Homo sapiens: one gene and its partners. The protein of the gene in region 1 interacts with the protein of each later gene in a pairwise test. Each region holds a gene or a part of one and is shown in the gene's direction. Other genes may lie near its edges. The genes, in order: LMO2, EIF4EBP1, ZFP64, ARHGEF5, IKZF3, NOTCH2NLA and HNRNPC.

Evidence for each region.
Region 2: the proteins of LMO2 (region 1) and EIF4EBP1 interact in binary tests that used the Homo sapiens proteins (3 or more experiments, as listed by UniProt).
Region 3: the proteins of LMO2 (region 1) and ZFP64 interact in binary tests that used the Homo sapiens proteins (3 or more experiments, as listed by UniProt).
Region 4: the proteins of LMO2 (region 1) and ARHGEF5 interact in binary tests that used the Homo sapiens proteins (3 or more experiments, as listed by UniProt).
Region 5: the proteins of LMO2 (region 1) and IKZF3 interact in binary tests that used the Homo sapiens proteins (3 or more experiments, as listed by UniProt).
Region 6: the proteins of LMO2 (region 1) and NOTCH2NLA interact in binary tests that used the Homo sapiens proteins (3 or more experiments, as listed by UniProt).
Region 7: the proteins of LMO2 (region 1) and HNRNPC interact in binary tests that used the Homo sapiens proteins (3 or more experiments, as listed by UniProt).

What each region holds. Positions count from the first base shown.
Region 1 is NC_000011.10:33,882,077-33,885,576, reverse strand, and holds part of LMO2 (rhombotin-2), read left to right. Parts: intron 1-3,300; exon of another isoform or gene 3,301-3,393; intron 3,394-3,500. UniProt on the Homo sapiens protein: Acts with TAL1/SCL to regulate red blood cell development. Also acts with LDB1 to maintain erythroid precursors in an immature state.
Region 2 is NC_000008.11:38,057,700-38,060,865, forward strand, and holds the end of EIF4EBP1 (eukaryotic translation initiation factor 4E-binding protein 1), read left to right. Parts: intron 1-2,204; coding exon 2,205-2,236; 3' UTR 2,237-2,666; downstream 2,667-3,166. UniProt on the Homo sapiens protein: Repressor of translation initiation that regulates EIF4E activity by preventing its assembly into the eIF4F complex: hypophosphorylated form competes with EIF4G1/EIF4G3 and strongly binds to EIF4E, leading to repress translation.
Region 3 is NC_000020.11:52,164,280-52,167,779, reverse strand, and holds part of ZFP64 (zinc finger protein 64), read left to right. Parts: intron 1-1,754; coding exon 1,755-1,916; intron 1,917-3,022; coding exon 3,023-3,085; intron 3,086-3,500. UniProt on the Homo sapiens protein: May be involved in the regulation of mesenchymal cell differentiation through transactivation of NOTCH1 target genes.
Region 4 is NC_000007.14:144,365,402-144,368,901, forward strand, and holds part of ARHGEF5 (rho guanine nucleotide exchange factor 5), read left to right. Parts: coding exon 1-422; intron 423-953; coding exon 954-1,011; intron 1,012-1,444; coding exon 1,445-1,509; intron 1,510-1,700; coding exon 1,701-1,954; intron 1,955-3,500. UniProt on the Homo sapiens protein: Guanine nucleotide exchange factor which activates Rho GTPases. Strongly activates RHOA. Also strongly activates RHOB, weakly activates RHOC and RHOG and shows no effect on RHOD, RHOV, RHOQ or RAC1.
Region 5 is NC_000017.11:39,857,813-39,861,312, reverse strand, and holds part of IKZF3 (zinc finger protein Aiolos), read left to right. Parts: intron 1-3,500. UniProt on the Homo sapiens protein: Transcription factor that plays an important role in the regulation of lymphocyte differentiation. Plays an essential role in regulation of B-cell differentiation, proliferation and maturation to an effector state.
Region 6 is NC_000001.11:146,222,522-146,226,021, reverse strand, and holds part of NOTCH2NLA (notch homolog 2 N-terminal-like protein A), read left to right. Parts: intron 1-3,500.
Region 7 is NC_000014.9:21,259,443-21,262,942, reverse strand, and holds part of HNRNPC (heterogeneous nuclear ribonucleoproteins C1/C2), read left to right. Parts: exon of another isoform or gene 1-349; intron 350-3,500. UniProt on the Homo sapiens protein: Binds pre-mRNA and nucleates the assembly of 40S hnRNP particles. Interacts with poly-U tracts in the 3'-UTR or 5'-UTR of mRNA and modulates the stability and the level of translation of bound mRNA molecules. Single HNRNPC tetramers bind 230-240 nucleotides.

The sequences.
Region 1 (3,500 bases):
CTACTGCCTAAGGCTATCTCCGGGCTAACTTGTATGTACACAGAGATAAAGCCACATCCCAGTGGCTGGACCTCATGCAATGTTGGGCCTCCTATCTGCCCCCATGAGCAGGCCACTCCCTTATTTGCACCACAAAACCACCAACACCAAACACTTCTGGTCTAGGCTCCTAGGTCTTGCCCTGTCCTATGTTGGCTCAGATGTTATCCAGTCTGGTCCCCGGCTCATGAGTCCAGATCATACATCTATCCAAATGTATAAATACATGCCTATGCTTGTATCTTCCTAGGCCCACACAGCACAACTAGTGTCATGGCCCACCCCAGATATTAAAGGAACACAAGAGATTGGAAGCCCCAGAGGGAACCTGCTTCACCTGTTCCACTCCTAGATAACTTCTTCCTGACGTCCCAAATACCTAAACTCACCTGCACACTGCTAAGTCTGACAACCCCCTTCACATTTTTCTGACTGTTCTGCAATTTAACCCTGCTGGTCACAGTCCCCAGTCAGAGGTGATGGGCAGTCTTCCTACCCATTGTCCTGGGTATAAGCATGACTTGGGGCCAGAAGAGTGGGACTAAGGTCTTACAATATGATCACACCAGGAAAACTAGCAGATACTTCAGAGAAAGATCCGAGGTCCTATCAGCCCACGTAACACAAAAAACAGCAGCACTGGAAGCTTTCACTGAAGGGCAAAAACCCCTAACTGCCAGGGTGGCAGATAAGAGACTAGCTCCAGATGATATGCCAGCTTCCCAGAAGGAGTATATGCTCTCAGAGGGCATAGTGTATCCTGCTGGACGTGGATAAATATTGCAAGGCAAAGTAATCCAAATAGCCCAATGGATGTACCACCAAACAGAAACCAAATTCTACATGTGGTACTCTGAACTCCCTAGGACTTGGATGTCCCCTGTAGCCTGGGGTGACCTTGTTTTAGGAGCCCTCCTGCCCACAAGTAGACTTACATACTGCACTGGCTATGTAAAATTGGTACAGCCTATATACAAGTATATTAGCTCTTTGGATGGTGAACCAAATGTTAGGGAGTGAATTTTGAAGAAATTGAGTTGAGTGCAAAAAGTTGCTCCCAGCAAAATGTCATTTGTCCAAATAGTTAACACCCACTGGGGCAGAAACCATCAGGGCACCCCACCCCTCACCACCCACTCAGCCCCACTCACCTCTGCAGCACCTAGTAATCATATGCAAGAAAACTCACCCTTACTCTTTTTGATTGACCACCCCCAGCCTGACCCCCAATGGAGCAGATCACTCAAAATTAATCTTCCCCCACTACCTCCTCTCGGCATTATTCAACAGGTGGGCCCCTGTCCTATATCTACGTAGGTCCCCAGCACCAGGCTCTTTCTCCTCCCCAGAAGTCAGGGAGTCCTCTTCTCAGTGGGGCCCTCAACCAGTGGCTTCCCTCGCTGCCTATGCCTGCATAAGTAATACACCTTTGAATTGCCTGTGATCACCGGGTCAGGTGTGGTGCGTTTTGGCATCCAAGGCTTTTAAATGGGAGAGAACAGCAGATCTGGTTCCTTTCACTGGAATATTGTTATGGTCCAATTCTGCAACCAGCTGACTTCATTACTACCTGTGAACTGCACCTCCAGCTCCTCCAACTGACCCCATACCCAGACCCTTACTTGGGCTGTTTCCTACCAGACACACCTGCTCTGTTAAGAAAACCATTATTGAAATCACCGGCTGTTAATTCCTACTCAGTCCTTAGTAGCCCTGTGAGCTGGAGCAAGTTCTGTAGGCTTTCTGTGACTCAGTTTCATCACCCATAAAATTATGATTACAATACTTACTTCATTAGGGTGTTGCAAGGGCCTAAAAAACACTCTATGTATAGCTCAAAGTACAAGCCTGACAACAAAGGAAGTTTCCAGATAATCGCTCATCAAGGGGCAACTCGATTTTCTGCTTCCTCCAGAAAGCCTTCCATGCTGATGTCCATCCACTCTGATCTCTCCCTAATCCAATCTGATTGCAGTTTTGATCAGCACCTCACTGTTGACCATGGATTTCTTCTCCATTACAAATGTGTTCATTTTGACTTCCAAGTAAGAGATAAAGGTCTTGGAAAGAAGTGATTGCATTTTACCTGGCTCTCCTACTGACTTTCTGTGTCATCTTCCTCTTAATTTTGGGGAGACTGAGTTTCTTTCTCTGGGATGGCAAATACATGGCCTATGTGCCAACACTTTCCCATCCTGAAACCTCAGGACACACACCAGTGTTCTCATCTTCTCTCCAGAACCTGGGTCCAGACTCACAATTCTTCTTAACACAATACTTTGGACAGTGTCTACTAACTTATCTAATAAATATGTTTTGAGTACTTCGTAGGTACCATCCCCCTTGGTCAGTTTCTAGAAGTTAAAACGTTGGACATCTTGTATCTGCACTTATGGAACTCATCCCTTAGTGGAGAAGAAAGACAATATGCAAATACACAAATAAGAAAATATCAAGTAGTGACAAATATAATGATGAAAATTAAATAACGGTGTGTTAGTGCCTGGGGAGGAGGCTATTTTTTAGATCAGGTATCCAGGGAAAGGCCTTCTGAGGTTTCTCCCTTGATCTGGGAGATTGGGTGTGGGCCTAAGAATATGTATTCCTAACATGCAAACGTAGGAAATTTGGGAAACACTGGCATAGTGAATGAGGTGAGGGCATAGTCAGAAGACCTAGGTCTAAATTCCGTCTCCTACATTTATGCAGCTGTATGACCCTGGGAAAGTTATTGAAATTTCTCTCTCACTTTCCTCCTCTGTAAAATTGGAATAATATTACTGATCTCAGGAGGTTTCTTATCAGGATTGAATAAGATCAAGTATTTAAAATGCCTGGCACATAATAAGTGCTCAATAAAAGGTAGGCATTGTTTGCCACAATTAGGTCTATCTATTTATAACCGTAATCTTTTGTTTGAATCACTCAAGAGACAAATCCAATAAATGCCGCTAGGTAATACGGTGTCTGCGTGTTGGCTTTTGCCTCATGAAGCTCTTCCTCTTGAAAAATAAATTTTCAAAAGACATTCCTGTGAGCAAGAATGCCCGAGTCTAAGGAACAAGGGTCATCCAGTTCTCTAGTTTAGGCATGTTTGAGATTTGAAAGGGCTTTGGCCTAATTTCCTCTCCTATCAAATGGGCACCAGGCTACCTGCCCTTTTTCACTCATGGGGGATTTCTGAGACTCAGAGGGATAAGAGATTTGCAAAGCGTGAGACACAAACAGTTGCAGATACAGACAGAACACTTGCTTTCTCAGACCGGCAGGTGCATACAATGGCAAGGCCACCTGATACACCAGTCCTGTTCATTTGGAAAAGGGACAACTCCTTCACATTCACAAGCTGGGCTGGTAAGTGAAGAATAAGAAGAAAAAAAAAAGAAGTCGGCAGGAAGCAGCCTCTTCAACCAGCAAAGAAACCGTTAGAATCCATCCCTGCGCCCTGATGCCAAAGTTCC
Region 2 (3,166 bases), on another chromosome or scaffold:
ATACATCCGGGATGCCTCCTGTTGGGCTGTTGGTCCCCTAGTGGATCTTCATGAAGGCAGGTAGAAACAATGCAGCCAGTTGTCTCTGCCGATTTGACATTTGGTAGCTGGGTCCTTCCTGCTGTCCCCACCTCCCGAGTAATTAGAGCAGCCACTGTGGTAGTGGTGTAAGTGAATGCACTCTTTGTGGCATCCTGACTGGCTTGGCAGAGTGTTGGAGTTCTCTGCTGCAAGATGATGCAGCATAAGCACTTCCGGGCAACTATAATCAGATTGGAACCCGCCGACCCTTCACCCGGAAGGCCGTACCCCAGGCCCAGACAGGAAGCAGCAGGGACCTCAGCTTGGCTGGCTCTGCTAACAGCAGCAGAATTAATCTCCCCAGGGCCTGCAGGACATGATTCATAATTACCTTGGGAACCTCACAGTACAAGACAGACAATAGTTGCCTGTGTCTTAGTCTGTTTTTTTATGGCTGTAACTGAATACCTGAGACTGGGTAATTTATGAAGAAAAATGGTTTATTTCTTACAGTTCTAGAGGCTGGGAAGGCCAAGGGCATGGTGCCCGCATCTGCTGGGCTTCTGGTGAGGGCCTCCTGCTGCATCATAACATGGCGGAAGGCATCACAGGGCAAGAGGGGCACATGAGAGAGAACCAAGCTGCCTTTTTATAACACTCTTGTGATAACTAGCCCACTCCTGTGGTAACCCATTAATCCAGGAATGGGCTAATCCATTCATGAGGACAGAGCCTTCATGACCCAATTACCTCTTAACGGCCCCAACTCTTAATACTGTTACATTGGGGATTAAGTTTCTGTATGAATTTCAAACCATAGCATTCCAGCCCTGGACCCCCCAAACTCATGTCCTTCTCATATACACATATATTAATTTGGTCCCCATATCCCCAAAGACTTAACACGTTGCAGTCCTAGCTCAAAAGTTCAAAGTCCAGAATTTCATCTGAATCAGACAAGACTCACAGCATGATTCATCTCAAGCTTAATTTCCTTCCAGCTGTGAGCCTGTGAAACTAAACAAGTTATCTACTTTCAAAAAATAGGGGCTGTCCCTGGCCCCTAAAAACATCAGCTGGTGGCCAGGCACAGTGGCTCATGCCTGAAATCCCAGCACTCTGGGAGGCTGAGGCAGGATGAATACTTGAGGCCAGAAGTTCAATACCAGCCTGGGCAACAATGCAAGACCCCATCTCTACATAAAATTTTAAAATTAGCCAGGCATGGTGGTGCATGCCTGTAATCCCAACTACTTGGGAGGCTGAGGCCAGAGGATCATTTGAGCCCAGGAGGTCAAGGCTGCAGTGAGCTATGATTGCGTAACTGCACGCCAGCCTGGCCAAGAGAGTGAGACCCTGTCTCTAAAGAAAAAAGCAAAAACAACAAGAGTCAGACGAAATGATATAGTCTGGATATTTGTCCCTGCCCAAATCTCATGTTAAATTGTAATCCCCAGTGTTGGAGGTAGGGCCTGGTGGGAGGTGTTTGGGTCGTGGGGACAGATCCCTCACAGCTTGGTGCTGTCCTCATGATAGTGAATGAGTTCTCTCGAGATCTGGTTGTTGTAAAGTGTGGGAGCGCCACTCCACCCTCTCTCTTGCTCCTGCTTCCTCCATGTGACATGCCTGCTCCCGCTTTGCTTTCCACCATGACGAAAAGCCCCCTGAGGCCTCCCCAGAAGCCAAGCTGAGGCCGGCGTCATGCTTGTACAGCCTGCAGAACCGCGAGCCAGTTAAACCTCTTTTCTTGGCTGGGCACGGTGGCTCGCACCTGTAATCCCAGCACTTTGGGAGGCTGAGGAGGGTGGATCATCTGAGATCAGGAGTTCGAGACCAGCCTGGCCAACATGGCAAAACCCCGGGTCTACTAAAAATACAAAAATTAGCTGGGTGTGGTGGTGGGTGCCTATAATCCCAGCTACTCTTTTGGGAGGCTTAGGTAGGAGAATCGCTTGAACCCAGGAGGCGGAGGTTGCAGTGAGCCGAAATTGGGCCACTGCACTCCAGCCTCGGAGACAGAGTGAGACTCCATCTCAAAAAAAAAAAACAAAAAAACAAAAAAAAACTTATTTTCTTTATAAATTACCCAACCTCAGGTATTTCTTTATAGCAATGAAAGAATGGCCTCATATACCAAGCATTCACCCATTGTTGACCTGGCCCTCTGTCCCCTCTCTCCCCAGGTGAAGAGTCACAGTTTGAGATGGACATTTAAAGCACCAGCCATCGTGTGGAGCACTACCAAGGGGCCCCTCAGGGCCTTCCTGGGAGGAGTCCCACCAGCCAGGCCTTATGAAAGTGATCATACTGGGCAGGCGTTGGCGTGGGGTCGGACACCCCAGCCCTTTCTCCCTCACTCAGGGCACCTGCCCCCTCCTCTTCGTGAACACCAGCAGATACCTCCTTGTGCCTCCACTGATGCAGGAGCTGCCACCCCAAGGGGAGTGACCCCTGCCAGCACACCCTGCAGCCAAGGGCCAGGAAGTGGACAAGAACGAACCCTTCCTTCCGAATGATCAGCAGTTCCAGCCCCTCGCTGCTGGGGGCGCAACCACCCCTTCCTTAGGTTGATGTGCTTGGGAAAGCTCCCTCCCCCTCCTTCCCCAAGAGAGGAAATAAAAGCCACCTTCGCCCTAGGGCCAAGAGTTGGGCCCCGTCTGAGCTTTTTTCAACTCTGTTTGGTAACTAACACCAGCTGCTATCTGTACAGTGCTGCTGCTTTTTTTTTTTTTTTTTTTTTGAGACGGAGTTTCACTCTTGTGGCCCAGGCTGGAGTGCAATGGCGCAATCTCAGCTGATTGCAACCTCCACCTCCTGGGTTCAAGCAATTCTCCTGCCTCAGCCTCCCGAGTAGCTGGGATTACAGGTGCCCGCCACCATGCCCAGCTAGTATTTTTTTGTATTTTTGTAGAGACAGGGTTTCACCATGTTGGCCAGGCTGGTCTCGAACTCTTGACCTCAGGTGATCCACCCGCCTTGGCCTCCCAAAGTGCTGGGATTACAGGTGTAAGCCACCGTGCCCAGCCTTGTACAGTGCTTCTAAAGCGTGGGCCTGTCCTTATTTGATTCTGACTCTGATCCTGTGGGTAAGTAGAACAACTGTTATCCTCACTTTACAGCTGAGAAGACTGGCACAAGAACAGGT
Region 3 (3,500 bases), on another chromosome or scaffold:
AGGTGGTGTCTGAGTGACTGAAGTTTGGGAAACAGAATATTACAGCGGCTCTCAAAATCATCATTAGGGCCTCTTAGCCTGACAGGTTCATCCAATGAACAAGCCTCCATTGGTCATATTTACTTCTTATTTGAAACCCAATCTTCATATGACAAAGTACATTCTAAGAAAGAACCAGAAAAAGAAAGAGGAGGAGAGGAAGGAAAGAAGGGAGGGAGGGAAGGGGAAGAGGAGAAGGAGGGAGGGGAAGGGAAGAGGGAGGGAGGGAGGAAGGGAGGGAGAGAAGAAGGGAGGGAGGAAGGGAGGGAGGAAACATGCCTAAGTCCCAGACTATAAATGTAGTTAACAAAGTAGTCACTTAATTTTTTACAACAAAAAAATTTGAGACTGCCTATCTTATCTTTTACAATTTTATTTATTATTTACTTATTTTTATTTATTTTTTATTTTTTTTGAGACAGAGTTTTGCTCTTGTCGCCCAGGCTGGAGTGTAACAGCACGATCTTGGCTCACTGCAACCCCCGCCTCCCAGGTTCAAGCAATTCTCTTGCCTCAGCCTCCAGAGTAGCTGAGATTTCAGGTGCCCGCCACCATGCCCAGCTAATTTTTGTATTTTTAGTAGAGATGGGGTTTCACCATGTTGACCAGGCTAGTCTCGAACTCCTGACCGCAGGTGATCCACCTGCCTCAGCCTCCCAAACTGCTAGGATTACAGCTGTGAGCCACAGCGCCCAGCCTACAATTATATTTTATATTTAGTCTGTGTTTTGCTATTTTTTTTTTCTTTTTGCTTCAGAACCTCAGTAAGAGTACAAGGAATTTTTTGAGGGGGGGAAATACTTATGCTGAGAAGAATGTTAATTAGACTAATTTTGCCCCAAATCCCTTCTATCGTTCCTTTTTGGTGTTTCATTAGGATTTTGTCATATAGCTTATGAAAGCACTTAATGCATTTGGCTGCAGTTAACAGAAATCTTACCTGGCATAAATTATAGGGACATAAATTATAGGGACATTTCTTGTTTATTTAAGAAGTCTAGGGCAGGCATGGTAGTTAACAATGTGGGAGGCAGAGACAGGTAGATCACTTGAGCTCAGGAGTTTGAGACCAGCCCGCGCAGCATGGCGAGACCCCAGTCTTTACAAAAAATACAAAAATTAGCCGGGCATGGTGGTGCATGCCTATAGTCCCAGCTGCTTGTGAGGCTAAGGTGGGAGGATTGCTCCAGCCTGGAAGGTCAAGGCTGCAGTGAGCTGTGATCATGCCACTGCACTCCAGCCTGGGTGACAAAATGAAACCCTATCTCAGAAAAAAAAAAAAGAAAAAAGTATAGATTTGGGTGGCTTCAGAGCTCTGACTCAGCATCTGATTTCCATGTTTACCCTTATGGTTACAGAATGGCTGCCACAGATCCAGGCATCACATCATCACTCCAGCATATACAAAGACAGGAAGTAGGGCAGCCAGGGCAGCAAGATGAGCTTTTCTCAACTGCTTCTTTTACCATCTGCCCTGCCCACCCTGCCCCCCCATGCTATTTTAAATCAGGGAGGAAAGTCTTTTGCAGAAGTCTCCCAGCGGATGCTCTCTAGTGTCTCATTAGCTAGAACTGGGTCACATGATCACTGTGAAGCCGCAAGGGAGGCTGGGAAAGCAAACTAGTACATGCATTCTCTCTACAAAGGAAAGTAGGCAGACACCATAGCTAGCGGGCATTTATATTAAGAAAATTAATAATCACCATATCTTTTAGTTTCAGCTCCAGAATTTGTTTTTGAACATGGCTATCAAACTTACCTGCCCACGGAAAGTAATGAAAACCAGACAGCCACTGTCATCTCTCTCCCTGCCAAGTCACGCACCAAAAAGCCCACAACACCACCTGCTCAGAAAAGGCTTAACTGTTGCTATCCAGGTAAAGGCAGCATTATGTCCTACTTGTGTAGAGGGTGTGATATTTAACCAGGCTCCAGGGCTCCTCCTCATGAGTTCCTGACAACTGCTCATGGATGTGTTCCAAACTACCTGGCATAAAAATCAGAGCCCCCTGGCATTTACATCAGCACATACAACCTATCTCCCACTGTCTGTGGTCATTCTGCCTCTGGGTTCTAAGACTTTTCTAGCCATAGGCCTTTGAAGTGGAACTCGTGAAAATTTCAGGTTGCTATAAATTTTTTTCCTATGCTATAGCTTAGGAAGATATCCAGTAAGAATTTTCTTTCCTTACTTTGGTTTTAATTTATTCAGAAATAATTTCAGATGTACAGAAAAGTTGCAAAAATTGTACCAAAAAAATCCCTGTATGCCCTTCATCTAGATTCCCCAAATGTTACCATTTTATTATATTTGCTTTGTCATTCTTTGTATATATACAAATATATATACAAGTATAGTTTTCCCCAAACCATTTGAAAGTTGCTGACAATGTGATGCCCCTTTATTCCTAAATACTTCAGTGTGTATTTCCTAAAAACCAGAATATTCTTTTAAATAACCACAGGACAATCATCAAGATCAGAAAATTAACATTTATAGGAACTATTATCTAACCTACTGACCTTAGTCAGATTTCGTCATCAAGTGTCCCACCGATGTCCTTTCTACCAATATCAAAAGAATGACATTTTTCCCCTCTGATCCAGGCTCCAACCAGTGATCACTAATTGCATTTAGATTTTATGTCTTTCATTTCCTCTAATCAAGAACAGTTAAGCATTTATCTTTCATAAGCTTGACATTTTTGAAAAGTATAGGCCAGTGATTTTTGTCAAAAGGGCCTCAGTTTGGGTTTATTTGATGTTTCCTTATGATCAGATTCAGGTTATGCAGTTTTGGCAGGAACCACAAAATGACGGTGTGTTTTTCCCGGTCATCACATATGAAGGCACATGAGATCTCTTTTTCCCATTACCGTGGTGTTAACTCTTGTCACTTGGTTAAGGATGTTTCTACCAGTTTTCTCCATGCTAAAAGTTACTAAGTTTTCCTTTGTAATTAATCTTTCCTTTTTTTTTTTAGGTTGCCAATTCAAGACTGCTTATGGCATGAAGGACATGGAGCGGCATTTAAAAATTCACACGGGTAAGTAGCATTTCTTTAGCGCATATGCCCTCAACACCTGCTCTGTGCTAGGAGATGGGGATCCACATAGGTCAGACGAATGATACCACTCCAAACGTCACTGGCTGTTATGGGAATACAAGTCCAGATTTTAAAAAATAAGGTGCCATTTGTACACATGACTTTGGCAGAAAAATCTTTAACATAATAAAATCCAGCTCTGGAGAGGATGTGAGCAAACTTAGCTAAGTGGGAATGTGAACTGTTACAGCCATTTTGAAAATGATTCTGCCAAAATTAATTAAAATTTGAACGCACATATTCTCATTTTGAGGAGATGACCCTACGAGTTCATATGTGTGTGTGTAATGATTAGTAAAGAGAGGAATAAGGGGAGAGAAAAGAAACTGTCTCTTTTTTTGTCTTTTTCTTTTAT
Region 4 (3,500 bases), on another chromosome or scaffold:
CACCAGCAGGAGTAAGAGCGAAGTGTCCCCTGGCATGGCTTTCAGCAACATGACAAACTTCCTATGCCCCTCTTCCCCTACCACTCCCTGGACTCCGGAGCTCCAGGGACCCACCTCTAAGGATGAAGCAGGGGTCTCAGAACACCCTGAGGCCCCTGCGAGAGAACCTTTGAGAAGGACAACCCCTCAGCAAGGAGCCAGTGGCCCAGGGAGGTCACCTGTGGGCCAAGCAAGGCAGCCAGAAAAACCCAGCCATCTGCACCTGGAGAAGGCGTCCAGCTGGCCCCACAGGCGGGACTCAGGGAGGCCACCAGGGGACAGCAGTGGACAGGCTGTGGCTCCTAGTGAGGGGGCCAACAAGCACAAGGGCTGGAGCCGGCAGGGCCTGCGCAGACCTTCCATCTTGCCTGAGGGCTCTTCAGGTGAGCAAGAACCGGGACCACAGTGACACATCAGACCAAGCTTTTCCCAGCTCTTCCCACCTCATCCCATCTTCTGTCCCTAGGGTTCCTAACATTCTCTCTGCTGGCTTCGCTCACATGTGTGCCTAACCTCAACACAGAGAGAGCCCCGAAGTGCCCTCCAAGCTCCTTGGGATGCTCTTCCTTCTTCTTCCCCTCTATCTCCCTGTCTCTCCCTCAACCAGCACCTTCTTTGGATGTCCCAAGGTTATTTTGGACTCCCTTCTACTCTTCAGTTACAGTCCCTGCTTGCTCTCCTCCTGGGGAGTAGAAAAGGCCTTCTGTACTTGTCCCAGTCCCATCCTGACCCGTGGCTCGGGACGTCACTGGTACTGATCTCTTTCACGCTCTCTGCTTTGCCACTTTCTTCCCTCCCAGTTTCCCAATAAAGCCCATTTTCCCTTCTGGACCCCTGCATCTCCTGCTCTAGATCTTCTTTGGCTCTCTCTATCCCTCTGAAATCTCAGTTATCTTCCCCATTTCCACTTTTAGATTCAAGAGGTCCAGCCGTGGAGAAACATCCGGGACCCTCAGACACTGTTGTTTTTCGGTAAGTCACCCTCTCCCCTAACAGCCACACTGTACTCTCTTCACTTGGGATACTGAGAGTCCCCTAGTGAGGATTTCAGTTGATAAGGGTTCTGAGACCCCGAATGGCTCATTCCTGTTTCTTCTTGGTGTAAGGAGGAGAAGAGAGAGATGCCGGGATGCCAGCTTAGGGAGATTGTCTTTATCTACCTCATTCGGTCAGCCGAGCCTACGAGTCATCCATCTTCCCAAGCCCTATGGCTGTGAACTAAACCCCACAAAAGCTCCATGTTAGCCCAAGTGGGTCAAGTTGCAACTCTGTGCCTCTCCGGGGGATTTGGTCTTGACATCCCAGCACACATCCCAGAGGCTAGAGACTTTGTCCCCCACAGTCACCTGGGGTGCTCTGTGTCTAATGGCCAGTAGGTACCCCAGAGCCCTTCTTTACTCCACAGGGAGAAAAAACCAAAGGAGGTGATGGGAGGCTTTTCAAGACGCTGCTCCAAACTCATCAACTCCTGTGAGTACCTTGAAGTGGAACTATAGAACCAGGTGGGCATTCTGCCCAGCACTGGAGAGGGGCTTGTGGATGTCAGCAGTGGGGTGGGGATGTCCCTAGCGAGAAGGCATTGCAGAAGATCTGTTTCCCTGCCTCCGCTCACCGTCCCTTCTTCCTGCTTCTCTTCCTTCCCATGCTTCTTTGCCCTGCAGCCCAGCTGCTTTACCAGGAGTATAGTGATGTTGTCCTGAATAAGGAGATCCAGAGCCAGCAGCGGCTGGAGAGCCTGTCCGAGACACCCGGGCCTAGCTCTCCGCGGCAGCCTCGGAAGGCCCTGGTCTCCTCCGAGTCGTACCTGCAGCGGCTCTCCATGGCCTCCAGCGGCTCCCTCTGGCAGGAAATCCCCGTGGTGCGCAACAGCACCGTGCTGCTCTCCATGACCCATGAAGACCAAAAGCTGCAAGAGGTACTGGGCAGGCCACGGTGGGGAGGGGGCTACAGAAAAGATGACAAGGTCTTGTTTGCTAGCATCCTTCTCTCCTGCTCACCACTGCCACCAAGAGTCGGCTGTCCCCACCACACAGGCGCGTGTACATGCCACAGCTGTGGGTCATGTCCATTCTGAAGAAGTTGAATTGTTTTCTGGATTTCACCACCTCCCCTTTCATCCTCACCTCCTCATGCCATAGGCCACTTGCTCCTACCTGATGTTGGTCTGGGCTATACATGGTGGCCATTGCCTCTGAATTTGTGTGGAGGAATGTGGAGTTAATCCCATCATCACTGCTGTTTCAGGGTAGAGGAAAGCTTCCCTGTTCAACCAGGGTTTCAGGCTACACTACAGTTTTCCTCTTTAGCCAAGGCACATTCCGGGGCTCTTTGTTGGGTCCCTTGAAGAGGGCCCTTTGCAGCTGTCCTGTGGTCCATCAATCTAACAGGGGCCTTAGAGTGATCATCAGTCCCTGCTTGATTGTTACTCCCAACAGCAAGACTGAACTAGAGGCTGTTTGTCTGATTCTAAGCTATTACCATTAGTAAGTTTTACATGGAGAGCGCCTCTTATTAATTTGTCTGAAATATGGGGTAAAACCTTTCTTCCCAGAAAGACAGTATGGAACAATGGAATAGAATAATGTTTAAGAAATTAGGTTCTGGAAGAAATGACCTGGATATGAAAACCACTTTTTTTTAAAATTATTAATTTATTAGAGACAGGGTCTTGCTCTGTCACTCAGGCTGGAGTACAGTGGTACAATCATTGTTCACTGCAGCCTCAACCTCCTGGGCTCGAGCAATCCTCCCGCCTCAGCCTCCCAAGTAGCTAGGACTACAGGTATGTGCCACTATGCCTAGCTAATTTTTTAATTTTTTGAAAAGATGGTGTCTCACTATGTTGCCCAGTTGTCTCGAGCTCCTGGGCTGAAGCAATACTCCCGCCTCGGCCTCCCAAAGTGCTGGAATTACAGGCATGAGCCACTGAGCCCAGCCCCAGAGCCCACTTTAATATTTCCAATTTACCTTTGGCCAAATGACATTTGTAAAACTGAGATACAAACAGTTACTGCAAGGATCAAGAAACATGAATGCCTGGTACATAGTAATTTCTCAAAAAATGTTGACTTTTCATTTTAAGTAAGCCAGACCTAGGTTTGAAACATGACTTCACCATTTGCTAGCTTAGGCAGCCTTATAACATCACTAAATCTCAGTTTCCTCACTTGCAAATTGAGGATAATAATGCCTACCTTTCAGGGTTGCTGAATGGTTTAAATGAAATAATGCATATCTAATTTAGCAGTAATATTTGATGTATAGTTTGATAAATATTAGTGCCGTACTCTCTGCCTTTCAGAGGCAGGGAGGAGTAAAATTTGGGCCAGGAGGACTTATGGACAGACAATGCTTTTACCAAGTCAGAGAGAGAATACATTTTTAGACTTTGCAAAGTTCAGACTTGAGAGCCCTGTTGTGGCTGCAAATTTTTAAGCACAGAGAAGATATTTAGAAAATAA
Region 5 (3,500 bases), on another chromosome or scaffold:
TCACCCCTACCCAGTCTCTCATGTTCCTTCACCTCAGCTAAGGGCCTCTCCTTTCTGTGTATACTTCTACCACATTGTGTTGAAATTATTTATTGATGTAGGTGTTTATTCCCCCTCTGGTCTTTAAGCTTCTGGAGAACAGAGACTGTGTCTTGTTTTTGTACACTGAATGCGAAGGACAGTTTCTGGTTCATAGAAGGCCCTCAGAATTTGTTGCATTCAATTAAAATAGTGCTGAAAAAGTACTTTTTATTATGTTTATTGTGATGCATTTTATTTAAATAAATTTTTAAAGTAGGAGATTGGGGCTAGTAATTCTTTGATAAAGCTCAGTAATTTTTTAAGCACTTAAACTGTATAATTGAAAAAGAAAGCTTGGAAAACAAAAATGTTATTGGATATTTTTTGCTAGACTGTCACTTAAAGCCAATTTTAACAAAATTAGATTTAGGGGGTACATGTGCAGGTTTCTTACATAAGTATATTATGTGATGCTGAGGATTGGGCTTCTATTGATCCTGTCACCCAAATAATGAGCATAGTGTCCTATAGGTAGTTTTTCAACCCTTGCCCTCCTCCCACCCTTCCCCATTTTGGGGTCATCAGTGTCTAATTTGGGGGTCACATTAATTCATAACAGTCCATGTGTACCCAGTGTTTAGCTCCCCGTCATAAGTGAGAACATGCGGTATTTGGTTTTCTGTTTCTGTGTTAATTCACTAAGAATAATGGCCTCCAGCTGCATCCATGTTGTTGCAAAGGATATGATTTCATTCTTTTTTGTGTAAAGCCAAATTTTAACTGTTAAATTTACATAAGCAGATTTCAGGATCGCAATTAGTCCATTAAAATATCCATTGAATATGAGCAGAAATTTGTTTTCTCAGTCAGTAAGATATAGATGATGCCATAAAAATAGCATACGCTTTCAAGTGATACTTTAAAAATACATTGTTATAAACTTTTCATTCATATATAAATGTATATACTTACACTTATTTAGGACTAAAAGATTATTGATTATTGGTAGATCTTTTATCAGACATCCAGTTTTTTTTTTTTATTATTATTTTTAAAGAGATAGTCCTTGCTCTGTTGCCCAGGCTACCACAAACTCCTAGGCTCAGACGATCCTCCTGCCTCAACCTTCTGAGTAGCTAGGACTACAGGCATCCACCACCATAACCTGGTAATTTATTGTACAAACCGCCATGACCTGCTGATTTATTATCTTTCATTTTTTGTAGAAATGGGGGTCTCACTATGTTGGTCAGGTTGGTCTTGAATTCTTGGCCACAAGTGATCCTTCCGCCTCAACCTTCCCAAGTGCTGGGATTACAGGAGTGAGCCACTGCACCTGGCCTAGATAGATGTCCAATGATAATTGGCTCATATGTCAAGCTATAGTTCCAGACCATGTATGAGAAGAACTGAGTGATTAACACAGAAACTTGCCTATAGTAGGTGCTCAATAAATGTCTTTTGTCCTAAGGATTCATTAATTATTTTGAAAAGAGACCCTACACATCACAAGGCCATAGAATGTACTCTGCTATTTAGCCTTTATTAAATTTAGCTCCATATTAACTGGTATATTTATGATAATTAGAAATTATAAGGATGAGGCCAGGAGTGGTGGCTCACGCCTGTAATCCTAGCACTTTGGGAGGCTGAGGCGGGCAGATTGCTTGAGCCTGGGACTTCAAGACCAGCCTGGGCAACATGGTAAAACCCTGACTCTACAAAAACTACAAAAATTAGCCAGGTGTGGTAGCACATGCCTGTAGTAACAGCTACTTGGAAGGCTGAGGTAGGAAGATGGCTTGAGCCTGGGAGGTCGAGGCTACCGTGAGCCATGAGCATGCCACTGCACTGACATGAGCATGCCACAGCCTGGGCAACAGAGCAAGACCCTGTCTCAAAAAAAAAAAAAATCATAAGGATGACACCAAGGCCTTTTGGATCACTAAAAAAAAGATGCAATAATGAAACAATAATTATAATTTATTTATAATATATATAGATTGTTTGAAAAGTAATCTGTGTATAACTTTATTAATTAATATTACTATATAACTCATCAAAATACTTTTATCCCTAGTGATTCTGAATGAGGTTATTTTTTCAGTCTAATTGAAATCTGGTTTTTGCATCCAAAATTAAAAGTTTTTTTTTTAATTAAAAAGTTACTTAAAAAATTTAAGGGCTGGGCACAGTGGCTCACACCTGTAATCCCAGCACTTTGGGAGGCCAAGGTGGGAGGATTTCTTGAGGCCAGGAATTTGAGACCAGCCTGGGCAACATGGTGAGGCCCTGTTTCATAAAAAATAATAATAAAATAAAAGTAAATTGGCCTGGTGTGGTGGTGTGCACTTGTCCCAGCTACTTGGGAGGCTGAGGTGGGAGGATGGCTTGACCTGGGAGTTTGAGGCTTCAGTGGGCTGTAATGACGCCACTGCACTCCAGCTTGGGCAACAGAGTGAGAACCCATCTCAACAACAACAACAAAAAATGTAAGTCCAAAGTGGTATACAGTAAATGAAAATAATATGGAATTACCGTATTATATTAAATACCAATACCATATGAAAATATTATGTTAGATATGTGTCCAATCCAGGAGATATTTAAAAACTGGGTACTTGATGGTTACAGGCGCCTGTAGTCCCAGCTACTCGGGAGGCTGAGACAGGAGAACTGGTTGAACCTGGGAGGTGGAGGTTGCAGTGAGCCAAGATCGCGCCACTGCACTCCAGCCTGGGTGACAGTGTGAGACCCCATCTCAAAACAAACAAACAAACAAAAAACTAGGTACTTGGTAATGGATATGAAACAAAGTGCATTACTCTTTACTTATTGTCAGTACTTAAAATCAGCTTACTGAGTGATTTTTTATAACAGTGGAATTGGCAATATGTCACAAATTGTACTTAGTAGTGTTCTTAGAGATGAAATTTTTGGCAGATTAGGTTATTGTGGGTTTACAAAGGAAACTTTTCTTTCTTTCCTTTTTTTTAATAGAGACATAGTCTTGCTATGTTACCCAGGCTGGTCTTGAACTCGTGAGCACAAAAGATTCTCCTGCCTTGGCCTCCCAAAGTGCTAGGATTACAGATGTGAGCCACCAATGCCCAGCCAATGAAGGAAACTTTTAAAATAAGAAATGGAAAACATTTCAATACTGTCACTCATGAAACAGAACAAAACTATTATTTTTCTACTCTGAATTATCTAAGGATTATGCAACTAAGTTTCTTGTTTATTTTGTTGATTAATACACCTATAGCCCCTTCTAGACTGTTATTTTCCAAAGTTTAGGGATCTCTCTCTCTCTCTTTTTTTTTTTTTTTAATTTTTGAGATGAGGTCTCTCTACATTGCAGGCTGGTCTCAAACTCCTGGGCTCAAGCGATCCTCCCACCTCATCCTCTTGAGTAGCTGGGACTAGAGGCATGTGCCACCATGCGTAGCTGGGGATCTTTTTATAATCGGTGGTAACTA
Region 6 (3,500 bases), on another chromosome or scaffold:
TTTGGTTCACCTGGATTGTAGTTGCTGACTTCAGGACCTTTAGAGAATGTTTAAATTCAGTGGGATATGCTTGGATGGTTCAGAGCAGCCTTACAATACATTTTAAAAATATCACACCCACAGAAATTCTATTTTGCCCACAAAATTTGCATTGATCTAGTTCCCACTCTGTGTTGCCATTCCTAGTGATCCTCCTCCCTACCTCTCCCATTATGGTAGAAAAAAACTCTGTGTCCTGGCTACATCAAAATCTGTTGGGGTGGATCTTGGACTCAGCACCCAGGGATTCTGATAAGGTAAGTTTGAGAATCCATATTTTTTCAAGGTTTACAGGTGATTCTGACAAGTAACTTGGTTGCAACCCACTGATTAAGTACATTTTTTTTTTACCTTCAGGTGTGTGTATGAGGTCTTTCTAAATTTAAGAAATTTCCATAACAAATGTAACCTTAGTCATTCCAGTGTTTAACACTTCTGACTCAAGAATTTTAAAATTGCTAACGTAAGAGATATAGAATATAATGTCATTTCTTCTGTTTATCTGGGTGCAGTATGTCTGCATTGACCCTTTAGAAGGGCTTCATATATTTAGATGATATAATAAATTCTCTACCTCTCCTTTTCCCTTTTCTTCTGTTATCTCTTTTTCCTTAAATGTCATTCATACATGTTGTTTTTTGACCCTTTATCTATATACGTCTGCAATGATTTTAGAGTAAAAAACTGCAAGGCGTGATTTGAATAAGGATATAAGAAATTTTACATCATTTTCTTTATATTGTGTTCACAGTCCATAGTTACATGCTTCCTTTCTTGATGTCTCAGTTCGAATGCCTAAATTTGAACTATTAATTTTCCTTCCACCCTTTCCTGATTTTCCTGTTTTTGTTTCCCCCCCTTTCTCTGCAAATGACTTGAAACCAAAAGGTCTTCTTTTCTTTCTTTGTCAGTCTACCATATGTGTAGTATTTTGGACAGATCACTGAACTAGGAGCCAGAAGACCAGAATTCTTCTCCAGGTCTGTTATTAATTGGTTTGGTGACCTTGTAGGAGAGCCACTGTTTTGGTCCTCCATTTTCTGATGTTCATTGTTCATGGTCACAGAGCCAATTAGAGTTGAGACTAGAATTCCTTTCTTCTGGTGTCCAGTGCCTCATTCACTGTCCACATTGCTTCCATCTCGTGTACAAATGCGCTTATGTGCACAAAAACTCTTATAACATCCTCAAGTGCTTATTGTTAATGCGTACATGAGGAAGGAATCGTGTATTTTCATTTATGTGTTTATTCTAATGCCCATACCCTACCCCTGTACCTGGCATGATGCCTTGGTATCTAATAGGCACACAATAAATACTTGTTCAGTCGAACAATTATTTTTAGCCACTTTCTTATTTTGGACAACTGTGGTACTCCTAGACATTTTAAAAATAGTATTTGCAGGAGTCATGCTTACCTTACATTTGGGGAAAAACCAAATTTTTCCCTTCCCCAGATGTTTCATTTAAACTTGTAATTTTGAATTTCTTTGTGTGTGGGGTTTCTTTCTTTCTTTTTCTGATCACTTCTGCAATTTATAAAGGTCACTTTGACTTTGGAATCTCACTTCAAAGGCACTGCCATCCACCCCCTGCCTCTCATTCAAGTTTGCTTCCACTGCTTCCTGTATTACTGTATTACTAGGCCAGCAATTTCTGTTATTTTGTCCAGAATAGCCACACCTTATTGTAATTTCATCATTTTGGGGACTAGTCATTTTTGGAATACTATTTTTAAAATTAGAGTTAACTAAGTTTATATTTATTTTGATAATTTTTTTTGAGATTTTTTTCATTGAGTTGGATATTGCAAACTTGTACTGGATTGAGAGAATATGTACATTTAGTAAAGTATATTTGCTTTTTTTTTTTTGAACCAAGAGAGTCCCCTGAACACCCTACTGACAAAAACTAAAGGTGAAATATGATGAATAAATATTTGAGAGAATCACATGGTGTTGAGTTGTCTCTGCCACATGATTTTGATCCTTGAGGGCCAGGTCTGTGCTACACACATTTCTTCTCTGTACTACAGAACTTGTCTGGCATGTGCCCCAAATTCAGAGTCAACTGAGCGGCAGGTCTTAGTCACAGCATCTGTGACTCCTGCTTTCCCACCTTTAGAACATTCTATAGGAGAGGCTGATGGTGAGTTGGAGTGTGTTTCTATGTTCTTTTTTCCTTTGAAGAGATAGGATCAGTTGAAAGCTGACCCCACCCACAGACTTTTTTTGCTATCTCTTTTAATTAATTAAGGAGTGGCTGAAATTTTCCTCTTTGTTGACTTATGCATTGGCGGGAACTTTAAAATTCATCTAGTCTTTCTGTCCATCCCATGCTGGATCTGATGTTTACAACATTCTAGTCAAGAGGTACCATATTTTCTCTCTTCTTGAACATCTCTTGTGGTAGACAGCTCTCCACAGCAGTTTATTCCATCTTTGGCCAGCTCTAATTCTTAGAAAGATCTTCTTATATTCAGCTGTAATCCATCTCCTCATGACTTGTCCTCATTGACATCTACTCAGAAATTTGTCTCAGAGTCCTGAGACCTGTGCAGGTGATAGGGACCCAAAGAGATGCTTGTCTGTAGACTTTACTGAGCTGACACCCAGCTCTCCATAAAAGGAGTCAAACCCAGTGAGGAGCATGTCTGGGGTGATTGCTCAGGTAAAGCATCTTAGCCCTACTTGTTTCATACCTCCCTGCACAGGTGGGCACTGGTGGGAGAATAACATTTATCAAGCAGTGTTTCCCTAACCTCTCTTATGATAAGAATAGCTCAGGTGTTCTCATGGAGATTCTGATTCAGTGCATCTGGAATGTCATCTGGGAATTTGTGTGTTCAAGAAATAGCCAGGTGATTCTTACATTAGGAAAGTTTTAGAATCACTGCAGAGTGAATCTGGGAAATCAAAGTGTTTGTTTTTGTTTGTTTGTTTTTTGAGAGTATTAGAGACAGGTTGCTTTGGCTAGATCCTGTGGTCATTTTTCCCCCTTGGAAATGCCTCCTACTTGCTGGCCTCACTTAGTACAGAGAAGAAAGCTGCTATGGTATAAGGTTAGTAAAGTTGTTTGTTTTGTCTTAAAAGAAATTTGCGAAATCCAGCATTTTCGGACTTCTGTTTGTGTTGTATGACTTTGTTGTAAGCCTCCTTATTCCTCCATTAGAATGTTACCTGAGATGTTAGAATGCATAGGAGTTCCACAGCCTTTTTGGTGTCCACTAAAGAATTCTGTCCTCAGCCGTTGCAAATGGTGCTTCCTTTGAGGATTTCTGCTTCATTAGCTCATGAACACATATTTGGTGTCGGCAGTTTCCCTCAGATGTGTTAGTGTGGAGAGATATAAAGGTCACTCATTTCTGGTGGTCCTGCTTTTGGGGTTTCTGGGCTGCTGCAGCAAATGAAATAAGGAAAGGAAAATAAAGGAGGAATCTAGGGCTTCTTGAGCAGAACAAA
Region 7 (3,500 bases), on another chromosome or scaffold:
CTGATCTTTAACTTAACTGTTTTAGAGCATCTCTGGACGTCTGTATTTTTAATTTTTTTTATTTTTGTTTTTTTATTTTTAATCTTTCATTTGTTAAATTTTTAAACTGTGCTGCAATAAAATGTGTGTGGTACTACTTAACACTTATGATCGTGATGGCATTTTCCCTGAAAGCCATCTTCCTCCTGTTTCCCTTGAAATCCCATCCTGCTTTTCCTGTACACTACCCCTCACAAACCACAAGCTGCAGCAACATGGATGCCCAGCCTGGAGCAGCAGCAGCCAGGATGACCTGGAGCCAGGGGGGCCTTCGGAACAGATGCACACCCTTCCTGGGTGATGGTAAGAGGTGTGAGGTCCACTTGGATTCATTACAAAGACTAGGAAATAAACCCGTTTAACAGTTTAGCTGATGTGTATAGGTCATAGCATCTGGAAGTGTTTGAAACTTTTGTGTGTGCATCTTGAGGTGTTTCCCAAGGGGGACCACCTCAGTTATTTGTAAACTAATGGAATAATATGAGTTGCTAATTAACTTGGGCTGATTAGAACATTTTGGATACTTGGAAAGAGCAGCTGAAGTTTAAAATGAAAGTGGCTTGTTTTAATGATTAGCAACAAGAAAACATATTGGGGAGTCCCTTTTTTTAGATTGTTACAAATCAGTAAACATTTTCTGTCATTTAACATATTCCTTGGGTTTGTGACATTTTTGGATTATATTCTATTTAGACTTTTTATCTCATTAATATTTCACAAGAGTCAAACCATAGGAGATACAACATAATATTAAAATGCTGTCTCACTGGAGGGCTTTTAAAAATTTGAAAAAAGGTAGGCTTTTTGACCTCACAAAGCAGGGAAATCTGTTTAACCTCTACATCCAAATTAGGAACTGTCTAAGGCTGACCCCTTTTACAGTGGTGACTCAAGACCCAGCTAGATTTTGGGAATTCTAATGTGAATTCATAGAGTTCTAATGCTAGATTAGGAACTCTAATGTGTTCTGATGTTAAGAAGGAGTGTATTCTGTGTTATTCACAGGAATGGTGTAGAGATTAGTAAAGATGTGGATAGCCAAAGAGAAGTTGAGCAACCCGTAGTATTTTACTCACTGCAGCAAAATGTTTTGATAACCATTTTAGAGTTGCTCTGATAGGTTTCAAGCTGGGAGATAATTAGATTTTATTTTAAAATATTTCTATTTTTTGTAGAGACAGGGTCTCGCTATGTTGTCTAGGCTGGTCTTGAACTCCTGGGCTCAAGCGATCCTCCTGCCTTGACACCCCCAAAGTGTTGACATTACAGGCATGAGCCACTGCACCTAACCTGGAATAATTTTTTGAAGGCATATTCGGTACTGTTGTACTAGGGTAAATCACAAACTTGCCCCCTTATACCATACTCGGATGAAAAGTGAAATCTAGTTAAAGTGAACACCAGAGGTACACTCAAAACAGAATGGGAGAAAAAGCAAAAGATTCCTGGAAGTTATCTAGAAAAAGAATGGGAATCTTTATTTTTTAAATAAGTGCAAGTTTTATTGATGCTCTCTATTGTATGAGAGCTATTTTTTCTTCTTTGCTGCTGTCAGTGTACGGAAGCTGTTCACTATAGGTTCAGTTTGATTTATTCCTTGTTAATTCTACAAATTTATTATTTTTATGGGACATGTTGTGTTTGGGGATATAAAAAATAGTTTATTATGTTTAAGGGCTTCGCAGCTTAGTGAGGGAGACACATGAATGAAATAATGTCCATATATGATGAGAGGTAAACACATATCCTATAGAAGCATGCCAAAATAAGCTGGGGGCGTTGGTACCTGCCTGTAAGCCTGTAGTCACAACTAATTGGAAGGCTGAGGCAGGAGGGTCCCTTGGCCCAGGATTTGAGAGACTGTAGTGTGTGATGTGATTATCCACTGCACTCCAGGCTGGGCAACATAATGAGACCCCATCTTTTTTTTTTTTTTTTTTTTTGAGACAGTCTCGCTCTGTTTCCCAGGCTGGAGTGCAGTGGTGCCATCTTGGGTCACTGCAACCTCCACCTCCCGGGTTCAAGCGATTCTCCTGCCTCAGCCTCCCGAGTAGCTGAGACTACAGGCACGGACCACCATGCACGGCTAATTTCTGTATTTTTAGTAGTGACGAGGTTTCACCATGTTGGCCAGGCTGGTCTCAAACTCCTGATCTCATGGTCTGCCCGCCTCGGCCTCCCAAAGTGCTGGAATTACAGGCATGAGCCACTGCACCTGGCCTTAAATTTTTCTATTTTTAGTAGAGACAGGGTTCAGTAGAGATGCCATGTTGGCCAGGATGGTCTCAAGTTCCTGACCTCAGGTGATCCACCCGCCTCAGCCTCCTGAAGTTTTGGGATCACAGGTGTGAGCTGCCGCACCCAGCGAGACCCCATCTCTTTTTAAAAAAAGAAAGCATGCAGAAATGGTTACCTAACTAACCCTGAGAGGTCAGGGAATCCTTTTTTTATTATTTTTATTTATAACTTTAAATTTATAAATTTATTCCTTCTACCTTAATCACATAAAGGGATTTTTTTTTTTTTTTTTTTTTAAATAAGACGGAGTCTCGCTCTGTCACCTAGACTGGAGTGCAGTGGTGTGATCTTGGCTCACCACAACCTCTGCCTCCTGGTTTCAAGCAGTTCTCTGTCTCAGCCTCCCGAGTACCTGGGATTACAGGCACCTGCTACTATGCCCGGCTAATTTTTTTTTTTTTTTTTTGAGATGGAGTCTTGTTCTGTTGCCCAGGCTGGAGTGCAGTGGCACGATCTCGGCTCACTGCAAGCTCTGCCTCCCAGGTTCACGCCATTCTCCTGCCTCAGCCTCCCAAGTAGCTGGGACTACAGGCGCCCGCCACTACGCCCGGCTAATTTTTTTGTATGTTTAGTAGAGACGGGGTTTCACCGTTTTAGCCGGGATGGTCTCGATCTCCTGACCTCGTGATCCGCCCGCCTCGGCCTCCCAAAGTGCTGGGATTACAGGCGTGAGCCACCGCGCCCGGCCCACCTGACTATTTTTTATTGTTTTTTTTTTTTTTTGGTGGAGACAGGTCTCATTTTGTTTCCCAGGCTGGTCTCAAAAACTCCTGGAAGATTTTAATTTTTAGGAATGTCTTTCTAATAACAGTATGGAAATGGTGTAGAGGAAATGAGATTGGAAGTAGGAGATTAATAAAGGAGATATTAAAATCCAAGAAAGAATAACGACCTGGCTTGGACAAAGGTAATGCTATGAGATTAGAGATTAGGAGGTAAAATTAGGAGCATCTCAGGATGGATGTGATAAGGTGGACAAGAACACAGATTTGGCATGATTGCTGGTTTCTAGCTTCTGGGATAGGGATAGATATTGGGGAATGAATGAAGGGAGCAGATTATAGTTTGAGGGTGGGAAAAAGAATATTTTAAACATCTTGGAGGTATTCAAGGAACATTCAAGTATAAGATGTTTTATTAAGTATCTGAGTACTATTTGAAAA